4 separate regions of the Homo sapiens genome follow, and regions 1, 2 and 3 are each linked to region 4. Evidence: fine-mapped QTL for protein levels in blood plasma. A gene starts in region 4. Each other region holds a variant in brackets. All regions are shown on one strand. Distances are between the middles of the regions.

Region 1 (5,146 bases), 45 kb before region 4:
ACTTGGGAGGCTGAGGCAGGAGAATTGCTTGAACCTGGGAGGCAGGGGCTGCAGTGAGCTGGGATGGTGCCACTGCACTCCAGCCTGGCGACAGAGCAAGACGCCAGACTCCATTTCAAAAATAAAATAAAGTTCTCCTTTTTCTTCAGCCTTCCTGGTCTGCCTGGGATTAATGAACTTGGCCACTCTTGGGACTCCTCCCCTTGCTAGCCTGCAGGTTCACCTCTCCCAAGAGTCCAGGGTCTGTATCGCCCCTTTCCTTCTCCCCTTAACTGATTTATCTTGCTTTGGGATAATACCACCCCCTCCCTCCCCACGACCAGACAAGCCATGTGTGCCCCGCCCTCTCCTAAGCAATTTACAGGAATGAACTCCTGACTCTCCAAACAACTGTATGGGACAGGCACCCCCCCATCTTCCAGAGAACAGCATGCAGGCTCAGAGAGGTGAAGTGACTTGCCCATGGTCACACTGCTGGGGAGGTGGAGAAGCCAGGATGTAGGCTGGCTTAACTGTGCTGCTATTCTGCCTCATGGCATTTAGTTTGAAGAGAAGGGGCTTCAGGACAATACTAACCTAGGTGCACAGGTTGTCCTTCCCGTTGCTAAGGAGCCCTAGGCAAGTCAGTTAATCTCAGAGTCTGTTTCATCGGCAAAATGGGCCTGAATTTCTTCCTGATTCACTGGGTAGTTTGTACAGATGAAATGTGATCACAGCTGCCAATAAACCTGGTCCCACAGTGACGTGGACAGCAGCCTCCTGCAGCACCACTGCTCCGCCCGGGCTATGAGAAGATGGGCACTGGCAGGGAGGGTGGCAGGCAGTCCCAACAGCTGGGGCTCCAGGCTGATAGCAGTGGCTGAGAGGGAGTCATCCCAGATCTCAGGCTATCCCACCCATCTCATCCCAGAGGGCACCATATGTCTCTCCACCACATAGTCACCTGTCTCCCTGACTGTGTTCCACTGTCACTAGAACAAGAGGATCTGGGCCTGCCAAGCTCCAAAGACAGCTCATCGTGAGGAGGAAAAGTGACTTTACAAAAGCAATGTGTGGTGGCTGTTAAACTGCTGCATCTTCTATCCGCCTTCACACCATTCTCACGCACATACACATGCGCACACACATGCCTACATGCACACACATAGGCATGGGCGCACACACAGGCATGCGCACACATGCGTACATGCACGCACACAGGCACGCACACACACAGGCATGCATACACACATGCGCGCACACACACATGCGCGCACACACACACACTTGCTGCAGGGGATCCCACCACCAAAGTCCATCCTCCACCCGCCTCAAGGGAGCCAAAGTCTGTTCAGAAAACAAACTCCAACACGTCTAAAAGAAAATAACAAAAAAACCAAACTTTACTTGCATTTAGCCATTAATAAATAATTTACAGTATGTACACGCGGTGACACTCCACACAGGTCGCAGACACGTGGACGCAGTGAGGGGTCCCCACTTCCAAGCAGAACGTGAGCAAACACAACCAAAATAAAGTGCTTCACTTTTTACTTCCAACATAGGGACCAACTAAAACCAGCAGGGAGAGGGAGGGGCCGGGCCCCGAGCGCCCTCCCACCCGCCCACACACGGTTCTGGCAGAGGGAGCAGGACCTCTTGGAGGGAGGGGGAGACACACGTTCTGCAGCCTCCTGGCCAGTGTATGAGAGGTCCCTGGGGAACAGCAGAGGGGCTGCCGATGGGTGGGTAGGGTGTGGAGCTGTAGGGCTGCTGGCAGGATCACCCTCCAGGGCCTGGCTGCACTTTTGGGAGTGAAGCCTGGCTTTGTGCTGTGGGCACAGCAGCACAGGTGGGACTGTTCTGGGCCCCTGGATGAGCACCCTGGGCTGAAATGAGGCGGGAGCCAGCGGCAAGTCTCTCCTGGCTGTGTGGCCACAGGGCTTAAGGGAAGAGATTAGAGGTTGAAGACCCTGCCAGGGATGCTCAGAGCTGAGAGTCCTAAGACCCTGCTCCTCTCCCCAGACTCCAGACGTGGATGGACCGGGCTGGGGGCTCTTGGGGTTGTGAGGAGGAAGCAGAGGATCAGGGCAGGCCAGCTGGCCCCATCCACTGGGTCTCCTGCCACACCCTGGGGCCCAGGCACCCCTGCCCAGGAGCTCTTGCATCTGCAGGAGAGAGAGGAACAGAAGTCAAGGATCTCTTCTCTGTTTAGACATTTAGAACCAAGCACTTCGACTTTCTAAGCACAGGGTGGAAGGGGCAGGGGCCCAGGCCAGAGACGGGCAGCTGAGCAGGTGCCTGAAAACCGGGACCTGCACTGGTACCCACAGCAGCCAGGTGAACATGGGCAGGGAGGCCACAGGCCAGAAGGCACCAGGCGGGCACGACCTACTGGCCAAAAGGTTCCAGCAGTCTGCTAAGGTGCCAAGCAGCGCCCCGGGGTTGCCCTGCCTGGGGCCAAGCCCCAAGGATGCCTCCCTGTGTGGCTGGGGTGTCCCCGCTGGCCTAGGGGGATCGAGTGTGCTCTCGTGTAAGAGTGTGTGCGTGCGTGTGGCGGGCACAGGGGGCCCCACGGATCGGCGAGCAGCAGTCGGCCGGGCCTTTCAGTGCATTGCGAGGGGGAAGGAGCTGACTCTGACGGTTCCCAGTGTGTCTCTGGTGGGGGTGGGGGGCTTCAGCCTGAGGGGATGTTTCACACATTCACACTGCAGGGGCGGGGCGAGGGGAGCTGCTCTCCCTCTCACACAGCTCTACTGTCAAACATCATGGCACCAGTCACCACAACCTTGTCACGTGCACTAGAAGGGGAGGGGTCCGTGCCTGAGCCCTTGGCAGCAGGCGGTCCCTGGCGTTCTGCGGGGCCATGGTGGACACGCCAGGAGATCTGCACCCCGTGGGCGGTCCCAGCCCACACATGGGGAAGCCGAGAGGACGGAGCCCGCGCCTCCCTCCACATCTACGCGTCTAGCAGAACACAGGGAGCAGGGCCAGGAGCGGGAC[G/C]AGGGCGCCCAGGAGGGGCCGGGGGGCCAGGGGCAGCCCCGCAGCCGCCCTGCCTGGCAGGTCCCGAGTCCTCTCATACAGGTGCAGTTTGTCTTTGTTGGAGTGGAGCATCTTGACATCCTCCAACGCGTAGTAGGCGGCCAGTGTGAAGTTCACGTCGCCCGTGGTGAGGAGGTCGAAGACGCAGGCCTGGTAGTACAGGTCCTCCACCGGCAGCTTCTCCTTGCACTTGGCCACGGCTGTCTCGTATGGGAAGGTCTCGGGGGCTGTGGGTGCAGGGCTGGCGGCTGCCAGCCTGCGGGCACCGGTGCCCTCAGCATTGGTGTGGAAGGCCTGGAAGTCGATCTGCTGGTTGAGGGGGCAGCCCCGCAGGCAGAGGTAGAGACCCTGGCTGTCCCAGTCCTCCACAGCATTGACCACTTCCTCTGGCATGCGGACGGCAAAGGTCAGGTAGCGGCCCACCTGGCGCACCACGATGGTGGTGCCGATGTACTTGGCCTGGATCTCCACGTGCTGGCCTGACACCTTCTCAGTGATCTTCAGGCTGTTGGCCCCGTGCTTGTCCCCACCGTTCTTAGAGCCATCCACGAAGGCGGCCGGGAGCTCGTCCATCTCAGCCTGGTACACCTTCTGGTCCACACACTCCTGGAAGTTCTTGAAGATGATGGTGAGCTGCCGGGGAAAGGGGCAGAGGAGAGTGGGTGAGGCACAGTGGGAGGAGGCACAGCCCCACACTTAAGATGCTCTAGACTGAGAGGAGGGCAGGAAGGATCCCCAGGGATGCCCCAGACACTCCCTTCTCCAGGTTGGACAGATCAGTTCCACCTGCGCAGCTGTGCACTTCACATTCTTTCAATGAAAACAACTTGCCCTTTTTACTTTAAAAAGTGACTTAGAAAAATGTTAGACCACTACCCTAAGTAGAAAACTAGCTCTTTTACTATATAGGGAAGTGAACCAGAAAAATAAAAGCATAGATAATTAAAAATAAAAGGTCAAAAGCCCAGTGTGGTAGGCTGAATAATGGCTCCCAAGAAGAACATGCCCTAATCCCTGTAACTTGGGAATGTTCCCTTAGATGGCAAAAGGGACCCTGCAGATATGATTAGGTTAAGAACACTGAGATGAAGAGATTATTCTGGATTACCTGGGTGGGCCCTAGATGGAATCACAAGTATCTTTATAAGAAGGAGGCAGAGGGAGATTTGACTAACTAGGACAGAGGAGAAGGTGATGTGCTCAACAAGGCAGAGATTCGAATGATGTGGCCACAAACCAAGGGATGCTGGCAACCACCAAAAGCTGGAAATGGCAATGAATGGATTCTCCCCTGGAGTCTCCAGGACCAGCCCTGCTGATACCTTGATTTTATCCCCACGAGACATATTCCCAACTTCCGGCCTCCACAATTATAAAACATTTCTGTTGGTTTGAACCACTCAGTTTATGCTAATTTGCTACAGTGGCGATAGGAAATGAATATGGTTTGCAAACATCATCTTGCATAATGACAGTGGTACTGGAGCACAATTCCTGACAAAGGACCCAAGCAAATGTCTGAACATTACAGCAGGTGGAATGGAGGGAAATGATGCTCAAAGAAAGAATGAATAGGGCAAAATCCATGCAAGCAGGCAGAGGCAAGCAGAAGCCACTGTCCCAAGGCTGCTGAAAGGGGTCCCCAAGCTGGGTCATGGAGGAGGGGAACAGGAAAGGAGCAAGGTGCTGGTCGGTAAAAGGGAGATGGAGGTTCCAGGCTGAACGGGCAGCCTTGGCCGGGGCTGGAGCAGGGAGGCTCCTTTCTGCTGGAGCCTGTGGCCAGGGGTGAGGGGCTGGACTGAGCTGCTGGAGCAGCAGCTGGCTGGGTGGCACTGTTCTCCTGAGAGCCAGACACAGAGGCATTGGCTGCATACAGCATGCTAAGCACTGCATGTATTACTTCCAGTCTCGTGTGACACTGCAAGGGTCGGTGACATTACTCTCAATTTTCCGGATGAGAAAATGTAGGCTCAGAGAGAGGCAGTAACTTGCCTAAGGTCACACAGCCAGCAAGAGGCAGAGCTGGGATTAGACTCTGCGTTTCCAGACTCTGGGCTCTCTTGGCCACAAGCCCATAGGGTGGGAGGCCTGAGAGGAGGAGGGCCGGTGGCCAGGGGAGCAGGTG
Region 2 (5,138 bases), 19 kb before region 4:
TGGCAGCAAGGTGACAGAGGGAACAGGCAGGACCAGGAGGAGGAAGGACCCATGGCCCCAGGTGATTAGACCACATGGAGGGGCCCACTTCACACCCAGGACTTCACAGATCTGGACAGGGGAGTCCCTAACAGATACAGGCTAGGCATGAGTCCAGGGGACAGGAGAGGATAAAACTAGGGTTTTAATCTAACTGTCCTGGTGTGCCAGGGACTGAGGATAGTTCTCAGGACATATAGATTCCAGTTTTAAAACTAGGAAAGTCCTGGGCAAACTGGGATAAGTTGGCTACCTTCAAAGAAATACTGTCTTCAATTTAAGGCTGGTTGAATTTTTGCCAAGCAGCAAAACAGCATGGCCCCTAACTGCTACTCAACCAAAACCTAAAGTTGGGGTTCTCTGCCCAGTTCTAGGCCTCGCACATTTCACCAAAGACAAGATCTCTAGCAGGAACGACACTCTCCCCAACATGTAAACTGGTCCCCACCTTCAGCCTCTTATCTTCCAAGGCCTCCTCTTCTCCATCTCATAGAGTGGCCTTATCTGTGCCCACAGATCACCTCTCCCCAGCTCCCATCCTCTGAGCGCTGGAGTGACTACTAGCCATTTCTCCAACCTTGCAAAGACCTTTCCCTTCCTCAGATCACAAGACTAGAGATCCTTTCCCTTTCTCCTCAATACACCCTCAGGGCCTAGTGGCTGGCCATCTGTAGAGTTTTATGTGCGTGCTCTCCCTGGGAGCCAATGCGCTGCTCTGCAGGTGCCGTCACACACTGGTTGCTAGCTGGCTGGTTCTTGCCACTGAACATCAACTCCGAATTCACCTTTTAAAGCCTAACCCCAAAGTGATGGTATGAGAAGTAGGAGGGATCTGGGAAGTGATTAGGTCATCAGGGTGGAGGTTTCAAGAATGGGATTAGTGCTCTTATAAAAGGGACCCCACAGAGTGCCCTCACTTCTGCCCTGTGAGGACAGAGCTGTAAGGCACCATCTACAAACCAGACATCAAATCTGCCAGCACCTATCACTCTTGGACTTTTCAGCCTTCAGAACTGTGAGCAATAAATGTCTGTCATGTATAAGCCACCCACTTATGGTATTTTGTTACAGCAGCCCAAACAAACTAAGACACTCTCCCCTTGGGACACAAAGTCCTACTGGGAGAGCAATAGTGTGGTAAGCAGGCTGATCTGCTGATGCATTTTTTTTTTGTTTGTTTTTTGAGACGGAGTTTCATTCTGTCACCCAGGCTGGAGTACAGTGGTGCGATCTCAGCTCACTGCAACCTCCACCTCCCGGGTTCGGGCGATTCTCCTGCCTCAGCCTCCCGAGTAGCTGGGATTATAGGCTCATGCCACCACGCCCAGCTAATTTTTGTATTTTCAGTAGAAACGGGGTTTCGCTATGTTGGTCAGGCTGGTCTCGAACTCCTGGCCTCAAGCAATCCACCCACCTCGGCCTCTCAAAGTGCTGGGGTTACGGGCGTGAGCCACCGCGCCTGGCCGATGCATTTTTGAATAGCAGCTCTGATAGAAACAGTCTCATTTCTATAGCGACACAGATGTACCTGGACACTGCAGAGGGCCTTGGTCTCCCGAAACCTTAGTTACCCACTGAGGACTAACATTTCTAAAACAGCTGCAGTTCAAAGTATAAGGGGAAGAAAGAAGGAACAAAGAAAGTCTGGAGTGCAATAGTTCTTAGAACAGCGATCCTCAAACTTGAGCATGCATCAGAGCTCTCTGGAGGGCCTGCTCTAGAACACAGACTGCAGGGCCCCAGCTCCAGAGTAACTGCTTCTATAGGTCTGTGGTGGGCCTAGAACTTGCATTTCTAACCAGTTCCCAAGGAAGGCTAATGCTGCTGGTCCAGGGACCACACTTGGAGAACCACTGTGCTGAAGTACAGGACCCACACATAGTGAACAGGAAGCCTGGTGACATGTCCGAAACATATGCCTGGATGGATTTCTCTTGGAACTCTTTTCGAAAAAGTCACAATGGCTTCAAAGTTTAAAAAGCCATCTATTAGCTGTGATTTGAGTAGGATGCCATTTGTGGAATGCTCTTTTAAGAGTCCTTTCTGGCCTCCCTTCCTAGGTAGACGTGGACACTGTCTGCCTGTGCTGTCCCCAAAGAATCATCTAAACAGACACCCTTCCAGACCGCTTGACAGTGCAGGGGCCCTTTCTCATCACCAGGCTGTGGTCTGCCTGAGGGGCTTGGTTAGAAGGCTCCAAAAGTTGTCACTGAGTCAGGAACCCAGTAGGTTGGCCATCCACATGGAGTAAGTAAATGCAAACACTCGAAACACACAAACGCTCTCAGTGTAGCTGAGGTGAAGGCATCTTTCTCCACATAACTATGTTCGATTTAATTTGCACTCCTATAGGCTTACTCCTGGCAGCCATTCAAGCTGACTAGCACAGAACAAACCGAGGCTTTCACGCAGTTGCTCGGCCAGTTTCCACCTGTCTTCAACGGGAGAGGCCAAGGCACACAGGGGCCCCCAGTGTGTCTGGGTGCCTTCCACTTGCTGGGGCTTTATTTCTCGATCTCCCGCCTTGCTCTCCATCAGACCTGCAAGTTTTCTAACTTCATTCCTAAGCGGCCCCTCTCCTGGTCAATGTGTCAAAGAATGGGACAGTCTCTCTCTGTTGTGGAAATTTCCCATTTCATCCCTTACTTAAGAAACTGTCTTTTGACCCACATTTCTAGAGCACACAAGTTTTGGAGCCCCCAGTATATTTAGTTTTGGGGTACTGGAAGCTCAGTTTTCAGTCAGGTGGGCAATTTTGACTAAACGCAGCTGTCAAGCCCTCAAATGAGAAGAAACATTAGCCAGCTGGCGTGACAGGAGAGCAGCTATCAGTTCCATCGGCCAGGTTTTAGTTACCGGCCTTGACGCCAAAAAGAAATGGGTTTCTTGGAAACAAAAGTGATGGAATTTGGGCTGTGACTTATATAACCTACCAGTGTTCCTCAGCCTATGGCGGGATGCTTTAAAATAAAAGTTTTTAGGATGGAGAAATAAATCGAGAAACAACAAAACCACCACCACTCAGGCCATGCAGCCTCCTACCTCTGGAAACTTCTGCCAGGCCTTCCTTTCCTCTCCAGCCCCAAAAGGTAACAAGTGCTGCAGCTTTAAGAGCGGGAAGGTGTTGTTTTAAGGGCCTCTAAGCCCCTCTTCTCAATTTCAGCTTTGAGCTGAGATCACATCCCCCACGGCAGCCAAGGGACAAAAGCCATTTATCAACCCATCTGATAAAACTTCCAATGGGCTTGATCTTTATCTAGACCAAACCAAGAACACAAATTGCAAACTCCTGCTTTTCCAAAACGTTGACTTCTTCTTAAATAGGGTGATTTTTATTTTAATTTTGAATTCTTGGGAGGAAACCAAATTGGGCTGTTCAACCAGACTCTTAAGTAGGTGGAGAAACTGCCTTTTAAATACACTGGGGGTGAGGAGAGGGCACCCTGCTGTTTGATCCCCTGCGGAGGTTTTGACATTCCAAGCTGAGTACTTTTTGGGGATACCAAGATCCCTCACCCGACATCTTGTCCTTGGCCAGGCCTCCCTATGGAACCTAGGTCTGGAGAGCAGGTTGCGGCTCTCTGCGACCCTTCTGGGGTGCGCAGTGGTTGAGTAAGCCGGACGCACAAGTCTGAGCTGGCGCTGGGGGCCAGGAGCAGGGCTGGGACTAGGGGGTAAACTGATCCCTCGCTCCCTACTGTTCACTGTCTGCGTGGTCCGCCCATTGGGAGCCCCAACTCACAGCCAGGCCGAGCCAGACCTGCCCAGTTTTGCCAGTTCCTTGAAACCCAGTTGGCGGAAGAGCAAATCAAAATAACCCAATCCGAGTCTAAACTCAAGTCCTTTCTTGCAAAGCTCAGTAGTGCGCGGGGGCTGCGGCTCTACGCCTGGCTGTGGTGCGAAACAAGATGAAATTTTTTCAAAAAGACACCTCTGAACCCCGCAAACACAATGGAAACGGCTGGGAGATCCCGCCTTGCGCCGGGGGGGCCATTTGGCCCGTGACATTGTGTTTATTTGTATTTTTAGCAAGAAAAAAAATGGGTATAAAGGGCTTAACTGGCGTTTTCTGGCTGTGAGCAGCATATGGCAAAAATGAAATAAAGTTTTATGAAACATCATAAAGAAAACAGGCCGGGGATTTAAGTTGCATGCCTCCCCCCTCCCCCCGAAAGGAAAAAAAGTAAAGAAACTGGAGCGTTTGGGAAGGAACAAATGCTTCTCTGTGGAGTTGGTCTCCCTTCCCCCAACAAAAACAAGAGGTCCGGGCTCGGAGGAATTTGAAAGCAGCGATCTGCCAAAAACATTGTGAAAAACTATGGGGGATTCATTGGAAACAGATGGGCTTTTTCAGCTTTAATTCTGAAATTCTCTCCTTTTCTGACACAATAAAAACAAACAGGGGGCGACGCAGAAAGTTATCAAACAGGAACACCAGCTCATTTGAGCCGAGTCCGTGGGTGTCCCCGCGTGGCCAAATGGGTGGAAACGAGACGAGGTCTCCGGGGAGGGGGCTGTCGGGAACTCGGCTGGGACCTCAGGGGCGACCCTGGCTCCACCCCTGGGCACCCGGCAGGTTTGCAAACTGCTGGGCGAGGAGCTGAAGAAAGTGTCCCCAGCACCGAGGGCGTGCCTCCCCTTCTCCCCCTCTTCCCGAGCCCCTAGGAGGCACGTTCCCAGCCACCCCCTTTCTCGGAAAAAGGGAAGGGAGTGAGGCACCCCGGCCCCTGCGCCCTCCCCACACGGCTCCATCTCACGGCAACTCGGGCAGGGTGCCCCTCTCCGGGTCCCCAAGGGCAGGCATCGCACCCACGACGGGGTGCGGGAGAAACAAAAGACC[C/A]GTGGAAATAGGAGGCGGGGTCCGGAGGAGGTCCGGAGAACTTGAGCCCGGACTCACTCGCGCACATCTGGCCCAGCATTGAGGGGCGGCCCAGGGACCCGGCCCCGCGCGCCCGGCCGGCAGTGCCTTACCTGCGGGGAAGCTGCAGAGAAGGAAGGCGAGGGTCGGCCAGAATCCCAGGGCTGAACGTCCTGCCCCTCTCCCCATACCCATCCATCCAGCTCGGCCTGTTACCACTAGCCTCTCCCTGGAAGAAGAG
Region 3 (5,146 bases), 130 kb after region 4:
CAAACTCCTGGCCTCAAGCAATGGTTCTGATAATTTTTTTACTTACAGGTTCTGTTTTATGGTTATCTTGTTGCCACTTCAAATTCTATGTGAAAGGGCTTGGGAACAAATTAATAAACAAATACCCTAAACAAATACCAAAATGGTGACAGTAGTTTCTTAGTCTGATGACTGGGACTTTTCATGTTGCTGGTTTCTTTGTTCCTTCTCTCCGTAGGCTTTCTGCTCTTACCTCATCTCTTGCTTTCTTTTCTCTAACTCTTACAGAGAAAGACATTTAAAATCAGACTCAAGCATCTTGGAGAAGGGGTTTTGCTTATACTTGGCAGGTTGTTGCTTCCTATGTCTAAGACAGGAGAAAAGGAGGCTTTGAAATGTCATGAAATGTCCGGGAAGGTTTCCTGGATGTCAAGTAGCTGTTTCCTCAAATCACGGGAATGACTGAAGTGTAGAAGGATCAGAAACATACAGATTCAATTTCACTGAAAACCCACACGTGGCTTTAAAGTGTTGGGAAAATATGCGTGGGCCCAAGTCTGATTTGGGTTTAAAAAAGAATGCAGACATGATGGGTTGTGATGGAAAAGTCTAGAGGCCACTGGGTGTATCTGCTCATTCTTCACCAGGACTCTGGGGTCATACATTCCTCCTGGGATGGCTAAAGCCAGGACCTGTTAAAACGGTATGTCCAGAAACACAGAGCACGAAGACTTAGAGAAATGAGTGTGGAGGAGGGAGTGCCTATCTCTGGGAACATTCTGGTCACATTGGCAGAGCCAGAAGAATACTTCTAAGACAGAAGTATTCTTCTAAGTGTCCAGCCTGGTGCTAGTAAATAGTTGAAGAACAGGGCCAGTTCCATTGTTGTTATTCTCAGATCTGAGAGAATTCTTCTGGTGGTCCAATAATCTGTGTGGAGCTCGCGCCAGGAGCCTGGAAGCTGGCCTCCGTACCCCGACCCCTGCCCCGCCTTAACTCTCCCATTTCATCAGCTATTGTCCAGTTGATTCTACTTAGCAAAGGTCCCTGGAATTATCCAAATGCCTGTCACCCCCACTGCTACTCCTCTAGTTCAGGCCACCATTACCTCTCACTAGATTGGTCCCCTCACCCTCCACTAACCTTGCTTGCATTCAATCTAATTTCCACAAGATACATGGCGTAAGCTTTCTAGAGCCCACCTCAGCTCCTAGCATTACCCCCTTGAACTTCTTCAGGGGTTGCTTACATGCTTGCAAATTCCCAACATGATATGTGTGGACCTTCACAATTTGGCTTCTTCCTGATTTTATATGTCTTGACAACCTGTTTCCCCCTCATTCCCCTCACCCTCTCAGACCCCTAATATGCTCCAACCATTTTGAACTACTTTCAGCCAATTCCTGGCTGGGGGATCTTGGGGAAGTCAATCAACCTTCCTGTACCTCAGTTTCTTCATTTGTAAAGTGAAGATGGTAGCAGCACCTGCATGGGTTGTTGAGGATAAAATAGGTTCATATATGCCCAGTGCTTTTAGCAGAGCCTGGCACTGATTCTGCCACCTCCTCGTGCCTCTTTGTATGCAGAAACTTTGTACCTGGAACTTCCTCCCACTTCCTTCGGCTTGCTTTTGTAGCGTGGTGGTCACCACTTCTGTAGAATGAGCCGCAGGCCATGTTGCATCGTAATCGTCTGCATTTCATTCTGTCCACGCACCACACTAGAAGCTCTTTGAGAGTAGGGACTGTTTCTCCGTTGCCTTGACACACCATAGTCAATCAATATTTGCTGATATAAAGAAAAAAAAACAGCTCACAAGGAGAGACTACGCCAAATTCCAGGTAGTTGCCTGTAGACCCTGGGAAGGTAATATTTCTTTTCATAAATGCACAAATGGTTATTCTTTTTTAATGAACCAAAAGAAAAACAAATTCAGCAGGTTGGCATTTGGCAAAAGCCATTTCAACATCTAAAGATATTTCTTGTTCTGGAACTCAGAACGACTTTGCACTTCCAAATGTCATTTGCAAGGTTGCTGGACTGATTAGGTTTGCTCTTAGCCCCTTCCCTGCCCATTTCCTGCCTTGGCTGGTGTTCCTTGAATGGTTCGGCATTCCAACTTGGCCTGAGATGCCAAGGCTCCCTGCTCTGCATTTAGCCTGCATTTCTCCTGGGTCCTGAGGGAAGCTGGGAAATGCACTCTGCATTTTTATCTCATGTGGTTGGGACACAGGGTGGTGTCCCAGGGAGGAGGCACTTTCTTTTGCCCTGGGCCAGCTGTGGTGGCATTTGACATGGCTGAAGGATTC[T/C]GTCACTCCAGTTGGCCATGGCTCATTAAAATGCCTGGGCTTGCTGGGAATTGTATTTCCAAATCTGTGCTTCTCATAGGGCCATGGAAACAGATTAGGGTGTGTCTTTCCCAATGTGTCTGATTTGTCCATGGTCACATGAGGTGGAGAGGGGAGGAGGGTGTGTAGTGCAGAGAGGTGCTTTGCAAAAGTTTGCACCTGCTGTTTCCTTCCGAAAGTGTGCAATCTCTTACCCCTCCCCATCCTGTAGAAATTTCTTAAAAAAAAGCACCACATTTTGTCATTTTTGCATGTTATATGTTATAAAAATTGACTGTAAGATTTTTTAAACACCCAGCTAATAAGTGATGCATACTGTTTCATTTACTTTAATTATGTAAAAGAAGCATGATTTGTCAACAGGTACATCACAAATTATATAATTCATCAGACTTGGTTGAGAAAAACAATCTTAAAACATAGATGGAAGTTTAATTATGTATTAGCATTGAAAATAGGCAAAACCTGTCCTTGTGACCTAATATTGGGAATTCTTGCATTTTGCACTTAAAAATCAACTGGATAATTGGTGTGAATTTTTTTTTCTTTTTTTTCTTTTTGAGACAGAGTCTTGCTGTGTCGCCGGGCTGGAATGCAGTGGCGCGATCTCGGCTCACTGCAACCTCTGCTTCCCAGGTTCAAATGCTTCTCCTTCCTCAGCCTCCTGAGTAGCTGGGACTACAGGCACGCGTCACCACGCCCATCTAATTTTTGTATTTTTAGTAGAGACAGGGTTTCACCATGTTGGCCAGAGTGGTCTCAATTTCTTGACTTTATGATCCGCTCACCTCAGCCTCCCAAAGTGCTGGGATTACAGGCATGAGCCACTGCGCCCGGCCAGTTGGTATGAATTTTTAGTTACATTCTTAAGTATTGAAGAAAAAGAGCGATTTAGGCTACTTGCCATCATTTCTTCAAAGTATTCCATTGCAAGAGTAGATAGCTTAATTTCTAGTAAAGAAAGAAACAAATTGGATATAATTCTCATAGTTTTCTCACATTAATGTGGCTTCTGAAATGTTGGAGACAGCTTGACGGGCCACTAAGGTAAATGAAATTCAGAGATTAAGCTCAAAAAATCTAGGAATAACATTCTCCAAGGTAGTTTTCAACATTTCTGCCAAGAAATAGGAAATTAGACTGTGAACTGGAAGAAGATCTTTGGAAAAATAATTTGACGCTATAGTCAAAAGTCAAAATAGCTTAGCTAAAGTCAAAATTAGGCATAACCTTTGATCCAGCAGTGTTCTTCTAGCCATATGTATTGGAGAATCTTTTGATCATATGCACCAATACAGGAATGTTCATTGCAGCACTGTTTATAATAGCAAAAAATTGGAAACAGCACGGATGTTTATCAGTGGTAGAATACATTCTGGTATAGTCACACAATGAAATATTATACAGTAGTGAACAGGAAAAATTACAGCTTCATGCATTAACATGAATGAATCTCAGAAAAATAATGTTGAATGAAAAACAAAAGTCATACAGGAATAGATAAGGATGGCTTCATTTATATAAAGATTAAAAACAATCAAAACTAAACCATATATTGCTTAGGGGTATGTGGGTAGTGCATATGTGCATAGATTCCTGTCAGCACTGCCATGTGCTCTGCAGGCCACGTGAGTGAAGTGAAGAGGGGTAGATTAGGCCTGCATTCTGCCATGTCTCTGTTTCTGACTTTTACTTTCAGAAATGACTTGCCTGGGCCCTTCTGTTCCTCCTGCCTCTCAAGCCAACCCCTGCACTATAGTACAGGCCCAAACAAAGCTGAGAGAGAGAGTGTGTGTGCATGAGAGAGAGATTGAGTGTGTATGTGAAGGGTGACAGGTTTGAGAATGAAAGCAAGATCCAAGCCCACTGGCCCAAGCACACTGGATCCAAGCGCAGTCTTGGCCCTACCTATGTGACTTAAAAAAAAATCGCAAATGTGGACTGGACAACATTTATTGAGCAATTACTATGCTCCTCTCACTGTGCAATGCAATTTCTTCTGTTTCATCTCATTTCATTTTCACTGCCACCCTGCAAGTTCGTGTTGTTGCTGTCATTTTACAGACAAGGAATGCAAAGCTCACGGATGCCGAGGAATTTATCCAAGATCACTGTGATGGGATGGGAACTTTGGTTTTCAGCCTTTAAATACATTGGTGCAGAAGTCCAAGAAAGATGCTTGGAAAGACCTAGTGGTACGTAGCTTCATGTAAACCATCACCCCTTTGAATAAAAGCTAGGCAATCCCTCTGCCGCATTTTAAGTTATTATTATTATTATTATTATTTTTGCTCCAGGGTGGAGGGCAAATAAAATGTTAGCAGCCTTCTCTTGCCTTGGCTTTGGAGGCCGACTCCTCTGAGCAGGTGGCTGGTGCTTGCAGATGTGGTTGAACCTGCACATCTGGCACACATTAATCCATGGACAGGACATGCTATTACAGTCCTAATGAAATTTGGGTCTGCTGCATTTCCATAAGCCACCCAAGGAAGCAGGATTCCTGGCATTTTGTCAGAAGTAAAAGCCTGGAAGATATAGAACAATTTCTATCATCATGATGGATGAGGTTATTTTCATCTTGTACAAAGTTACTCCCAATTGAAAGGTTGGAGACAAGATAGCTCTTGATTAAATGAAAATTGTGCCTGACTAGGACATAAATTATGTAGTGGAGCAGCAAAAAAATCTGAATGTGCTTTTATGAGCTCAGTCCCCATCATGGTTTAACTCAGAGAAAAAACCTTTTCCTCCTTTGCAAGGATGTCCACGGCTACATGGTTGAAGCATTGCCCTGAAGGAATACTGTGTGGTTGGAGTTT
Region 4 (5,146 bases):
TTTGCAACTGCTCGTCTAAGAATTCTTGGGCTTGGCTTCTCACAGGGCTGCTGAAGAGCAAGGGATTGTATTAAAAAGGAGATTCTTGTGCCTTTATTGTCTATTATTACATACACTGGGAAGCAGCAAGTTATTCCTTGGAGGAGGTTTGTAAAAAGAGAAAGCAGGCAGAGGTTTCTTAGCAAAAGTCAAAGGTGCCCTCCTTGAATGAGATGCCAAGCTATTCTAAGACCTCGTCTGTCACAAGTCTCATGATGACATAAATACCTACCAATGGAGACACAGTTTGAGACAGCATGACGGGGCAGACCAGCCACCCACCATTTCATATGTCTATTGGAGAATGTAAGCAACTGTCTGACACCTGGGAGGGAAATAATGGAAGCAGGGTACTTGAAAAAAGGAGGCTAAGACCTCTTTCACTACCAGCACAGCCCAGAGAGTCTCAAGGGGGTACTACAGTAGACCACTACACTGCTCTACAAGGGGCCAGGGTGCCCTTCAGAACCGGGTGAGCCCAGCTCACTGCTAATATATTATCTGGCCTGGAAGGTGGCAGCAAAAACCAGCCACAGAGAACGTGGAGCCCGCCTGGATGTGTGGGTGCCCCACCCAGAGCCTTTGTCTGCAGAACTTGCCATCCAGCCACGTCTGCCCCAGTTGTTAATTGGAGATCATGTCCCTGTAAAGGGGGCTTGCTTGTCACTTGCTGTGGTAACAGCAAGAAACCCCTTCTTTGTATGTGCAAAAAAAAAAAAAAAAAAAACCACAAAACCCAGTTTGGGTACACTATTCTGTTCCTGCACAAATGGGCAGGAGGCCCTCTCCCAGTTCTCCTCCTGTTGCCCTTCGGAGCACAGTTACTCTCTTTTCTAGGGGTCATGGCTCAAAATCCACCCAAGAAATCACCCGTTTGTGATGCACAGGAGAAGACAGAGGTTTGTGCATTGGTTTTCAAGATCTCTGCACCAGATACCTGCGGAAGGGGCATCTTCTTACAGCAGTTAACATTTTATATTACGTTTTTGCTGGAAGAGTCTAAAACCAAACAGAGAAGGTGATGGAGCTCCTTTAGGTGACAGCATGCCACTCAACACGACCCGCAATTTCGTCCCCTGAGCTCAATGTGCTGAGCATGGGAGGTCGGGGTTCTCCCTGGTACCGTCGATACTCAGAGAGCTTCTGTAGCCTCCTTCCTGGAGGCGAGGGCTGGTTCCCGCCTCTCCACCTTGTGCGGGAGACTACTTTGAGAACACCCAACAACTTCGCAGCCTAAGAGGAATGCACAGCTCACCACTTCCGCTAGATGGCGCTACTTCCCCTACTCCGCCCGCGAGACACCCAATTTATAAAATAAATACAACCCAACACCTCCCAAAACCACACCACATAATAGCAGCTCACAGGCTCCCATTAGAAATCTCAATTTGGGAGAACTGATTCTACCTCCGAGCAAGTCTAATACAATTACATTAATAAGACGCAATCCCGAATTGCACCCGAGCGTCCCCCACACCCGCCCTCCCATTGAATACACCTGTCCCCCATGCCCGGGCTTGTACCCTGGGTTGAGCTGCGGCGCGAGCCGGCGCTGAATCGTCGCCGTGCCCTCCCGTCCACTTAGGAAAGCCGGGGCGGCTTGGCAATGGGCATCCTCGGCCCTCAATCCAAGGTCCGCACCTTCCCGTACGCCGGCGCGCCGAGGCAAAGGGCCGCCGGGACGCGAGCCCACGCGGTGCACTGCGCCGACATCCCCGAGGGCAGGAGATGGCCAGGCAGCTCCGCAGCCGGGCGTCGAGCGGGAGGCGGGGGCCCGGGCGGCGCGGGCCAATGGGGGTTCACGGCGGGACAGTCGGGTGGCCGGCTCCGTCCGGGGCTCCGCGAGCCGGGCTGAGGGAAGGAGCTCCCAGCCCGCACACGGTGTAAGGGACGTGTGCCGGGTCTGCCCAACCACGCGCGCTGGCGGCTGCCCGGGGGAGAGTATTTTAGGAAAAAAGAACAAACACCAAACCACAAAAACTTTCCTGCTGCCAACAGCTAAAGCGATAGAGGCGCAGCAAAGCTCCAAATGTGGGCAAGATGGGAGCAAGATGAGACGCGGGGCTAAGGAAGACCAAAGCAGCGCCGTGGCCCCGGCATGTGTCGGCGGCGCCTCGGAGATGTCAGAGCCGGGTCTGCCCGGCTCCCGACCCGCGCTTACCTTGGCGGCTGCATGAGCCCCTGCGGCCCGCGGGGGGTGGCGCTGGCGGGGCTGCGGGAGAAGAGGGGGTGTCGGGGCGCCGCTCGTCTGCCCCGGGGCAAGGTGGGAGGGGCTCCGCTGGCGCTGGTCCCCGCCGCCCCGGCCGGCTCAGCAGCGGCCCGGGGAGCGCCTCCTGCTCCCGGGCTGCATGCCTGCGAGCGCCTGGCGGAGCCGGCCCGGGAGCGAACGGCCAGTGCTTCCCCGGCCCAGCGGCTCGGGCGGCGCAGCCAGCGCTCGGGAGACAACTGCAGAGTGGGGCGGCCGGGACCAGCCCCCTCCCTCGCCCGGCCCCCGCCCGCCGCCGAGCGCGGCGTCGCGAGGTTCGTTTGCGCGCCGAGGGGAGGGGGCGGGCCGGGCGCCCGGGCCGCGGGCGGGGGGCGCGCGCGGGCGGGGCCGGCAGGGAGGGGCGGGGAGGAGCGGGGTGCGGGCTCGCGTTGCCCCGCCCCGCCGCGGCCCCACCCTCCCGCATCAGCACCGGCTGGGTGGGTGCGGAGTGCGCCAGCGGCCAAGTCAAGACTCCTTGAATGCTCAGGTTAGGGGGCGCGGGCGGCAAGTGCGGCGACTCCCCGGGGCGCCTCCAACTTTCCGAATCGCCCGCAGGGTTGCGGTGGAGCGCACGGTGTCCTTCAGTTAGGCGGTGGTCGAGGGGAGTTCCTCTGAGATTTCTGGAGAAGGCGGTTACATCCAAGACAAATGCTGTTGCGCTCTGCGGAGACGCACCTTTGTTCTATAGAGATTTTGTTGTTGTTTAAGAATCTTCCTGAAAAAACTAATACATATGTATTACATGCTAACACACGCATACATTCTTGCGTAGAATTGTACATAACTCAGGAGTGTCTAGAGTGAAAAGACCGTATCGCACTCCCTCCCACGGCCGCGGCTCTCCCACGGCCGCGGCTCCCCCGCGGTAACCTTCGGTCAGGGTGTGCTCTGCCGCGGTTCTTTCCAGTCTCTGCGCTTTTACATGCACACGCACAGATTGCGAGTGGAATCTCCTGGGCTTTTCAAAAGAATGTTTTCAACATTAAGCGCATGCACACAGTGGCTTGAACACGGCCACGTCGGGAGCAGTAAATCCCCAGAGGCTCCGGGAGCCCAGGGAAGGACCCTTGCTGTGAAACAGCAAAGAGCCACCCAATCGCCATGTGTGGATCTGAAACCCCAGCTGGAGCGTGAAGTCGGTCTGGTTACACAGCTCAGGCCCAAATTAGCACTGCACGGTTAGAGAGATTTGCCAGTACATTCTAGACAGGGTTATGACCTTCCCCTTCTTACAGAACAAACTGTCTTGAATTTTGATATGATGAGAACTCTGGATTTGCAAAATGAAAAGGTATCGTCCGCATTAAAACACGATCGTTATTTATGCGTGTGGTCTTCAGAGATGTGGTTTTAACTCAATATTCTCCGTTTTATTTGTCAAGTGTATTTGTATAATCTATAGCTGGGATATAAATAAAATTAAGTGGTTTAGCAGGAAGGGATTGGGGATGGGTTTCTAGAATTAGCTCTGACCTTCGGCAAGTCATCTAGCTCTGCTGGGCCTCAGTTTCCTCATCTATGAATAGTAGGGTGTGTGTGTGTGTGTGTGTGTGTGTGTGTGTGTGTGTGTGTGTGGTCTTCCTGCCCTGACATTCTGTGCCCTGACATTCAGTGAATAACCAATTTCTTCATCTTTCATAGCTCAGCTCCAACATCTTCCCCACCCTCTAGGGAGTCCTCACATCCGTGCCTTTCCTTCCTAACACTGAGCTCACTCGGTAATTAGGCGCTCATTAGAGTGACCTTTCCCTACATGTTGGCCTCTCCCACCGTACCATAAGCATCATGAGGGCAGGAACCAGGACTCCTTGGAGTCATCATTGCATTCCTAGCACTTAATATGGTGCCTGGCACACTACAAGAATCTCTGAATGACTGTCACGCAGATAGTAGATTTCTTACTGTTCTTCCAAATTGCCTGGCATTTTTAAAAGGTCTGTAAGTGGAAACGTGTCTTTTTAAAATGAGGCCTTTGGAAAGTAACCAGCAGGGTTTTCCCATGGTGGGGGACAAACAATCCACTGTCTAGATAAGGACAGACAATTCTCAGCTCAATCAAGGGCCGTGGAGGTAGCCGGTAACTATTTACCTTGATGAGTGCAGGCACCCGTGGAGAAGACAACGAATATTAATGCTACTCGTTAAGTACTTGGTTAAGTTAGAACCCTGCATAGGCAGTTGGAATACACAGAGTGCTCAGATTTAAATGAAGCCGTGAAGTGTGTTTAGGGTGCAAATTAAGAAATGGACATGCTTTCAACCAACAATCTAGAAACATTCCTAATATAAAGCTCCAGGGTATCCTTGGCTTTCTTTACTGCAAAGGGCCTGGATTCCTTAATATGAACAGGAAACAGGCTAACCTAGGTACAAGAGTTTAAAAAAAAGAAAAAAGGCCATTAAGAAACAAGGGGCGGGGTAAGTGAAAGTCTAAGTCAGTACAAGACTAATATCTATATTAGTTTCTTTTTTGTCTGATATGTAGATTTGCCGAGGGAGAGGTTAAAATCCGGCGTCACATTTATAGAGGAAAACTGGGGTTTCCACCCCTTCTTGGCCACTCTTCCTTTTCTTCCCTTTTGTGAGAGGGGATACATGCTTGCTGGGCGGTCGCCAGATCCACCTGGATGCCACCTGGTGTGAGAAAGCTCTCCTGGGATGCACCACACCCGGCGCAGGGAAAGCCTGTGCTACTGGGGTGCGGAGCAATTTGCTGTCTCTCTGTTGCCAGTGAGGGGTGGTGCCTACTGGGCAAGAGTGCGTCCTCGGAGCGTGGATTCATAGTGAAATTGACCAAGCAATGTGACAGTGAATTGGCCTTACTTTACTCAGGGTTGCCACTGGGGGCCATCCCTTTGGATT

Alleles and levels. Positions count from the first base shown, and alleles are read on the strand shown. Strength reflects both the effect of a copy and how common the allele is.
In carriers of allele G in region 1, the plasma level of the protein whose gene starts at base 2,493 in region 4 tends to be lower than with C alone (moderate association).
In carriers of allele A in region 2, the plasma level of the protein whose gene starts at base 2,493 in region 4 tends to be lower than with C alone (moderate association).
With allele T in place of C in region 3, the plasma level of the protein whose gene starts at base 2,493 in region 4 is lower (moderate association).

Evidence for each region. PIP is the posterior inclusion probability: the model's chance that the variant is causal. The UK Biobank Pharma Proteomics Project read protein levels with antibody pairs (Olink). The fine-mapping took linkage between variants from a reference panel, not from the people measured, so its PIPs are less certain.
Region 1: its variant is fine-mapped to the plasma level of the RGMA protein (UK Biobank, PIP above 0.99). The variant lies in the coding sequence of RGMA. If it changes the protein, the assay may bind it differently, which can mimic a change of level.
Region 2: its variant is fine-mapped to the plasma level of the RGMA protein (UK Biobank, PIP above 0.99).
Region 3: its variant is fine-mapped to the plasma level of the RGMA protein (UK Biobank, PIP above 0.99).

Annotation. Positions count from the first base shown.
Region 1 is chr15:93,042,052-93,047,197 of GRCh38, forward strand. RGMA (repulsive guidance molecule BMP co-receptor a) reads right to left here. Exons shown (of 4, transcript NM_020211.3): 4 at 1-3,654. The coding sequence ends at 2,947. Among named protein-coding and RNA genes, the nearest start is that of RGMA, 45 kb to the right of the region's middle. The variant G/C (reference allele first, on the strand shown) is at 2,983.
Region 2 is chr15:93,067,906-93,073,043 of GRCh38, forward strand. It overlaps RGMA (repulsive guidance molecule BMP co-receptor a), which reads right to left. Exons shown (of 4, transcript NM_020211.3): 2 at 5,011-5,126. Among named protein-coding and RNA genes, the nearest start is that of RGMA, 19 kb to the right of the region's middle. The variant C/A (reference allele first, on the strand shown) is at 4,880.
Region 3 is chr15:93,215,263-93,220,408 of GRCh38, forward strand. LOC105370982 (a long non-coding RNA gene) reads left to right here. Exons shown (of 7, transcript XR_007064770.1): 2 at 4,392-4,522. Among named protein-coding and RNA genes, the nearest start is that of RGMA, 130 kb to the left of the region's middle. The variant T/C (reference allele first, on the strand shown) is at 2,289.
Region 4 is chr15:93,086,719-93,091,864 of GRCh38, forward strand. RGMA (repulsive guidance molecule BMP co-receptor a) reads right to left here and starts at 2,493. Exons shown (of 4, transcript NM_020211.3): 1 at 2,201-2,493. The coding sequence starts at 2,214. LOC101927025 (a long non-coding RNA gene) reads left to right here and starts at 2,496. Exons shown (of 5, transcript XR_007064769.1): 1 at 2,496-2,559.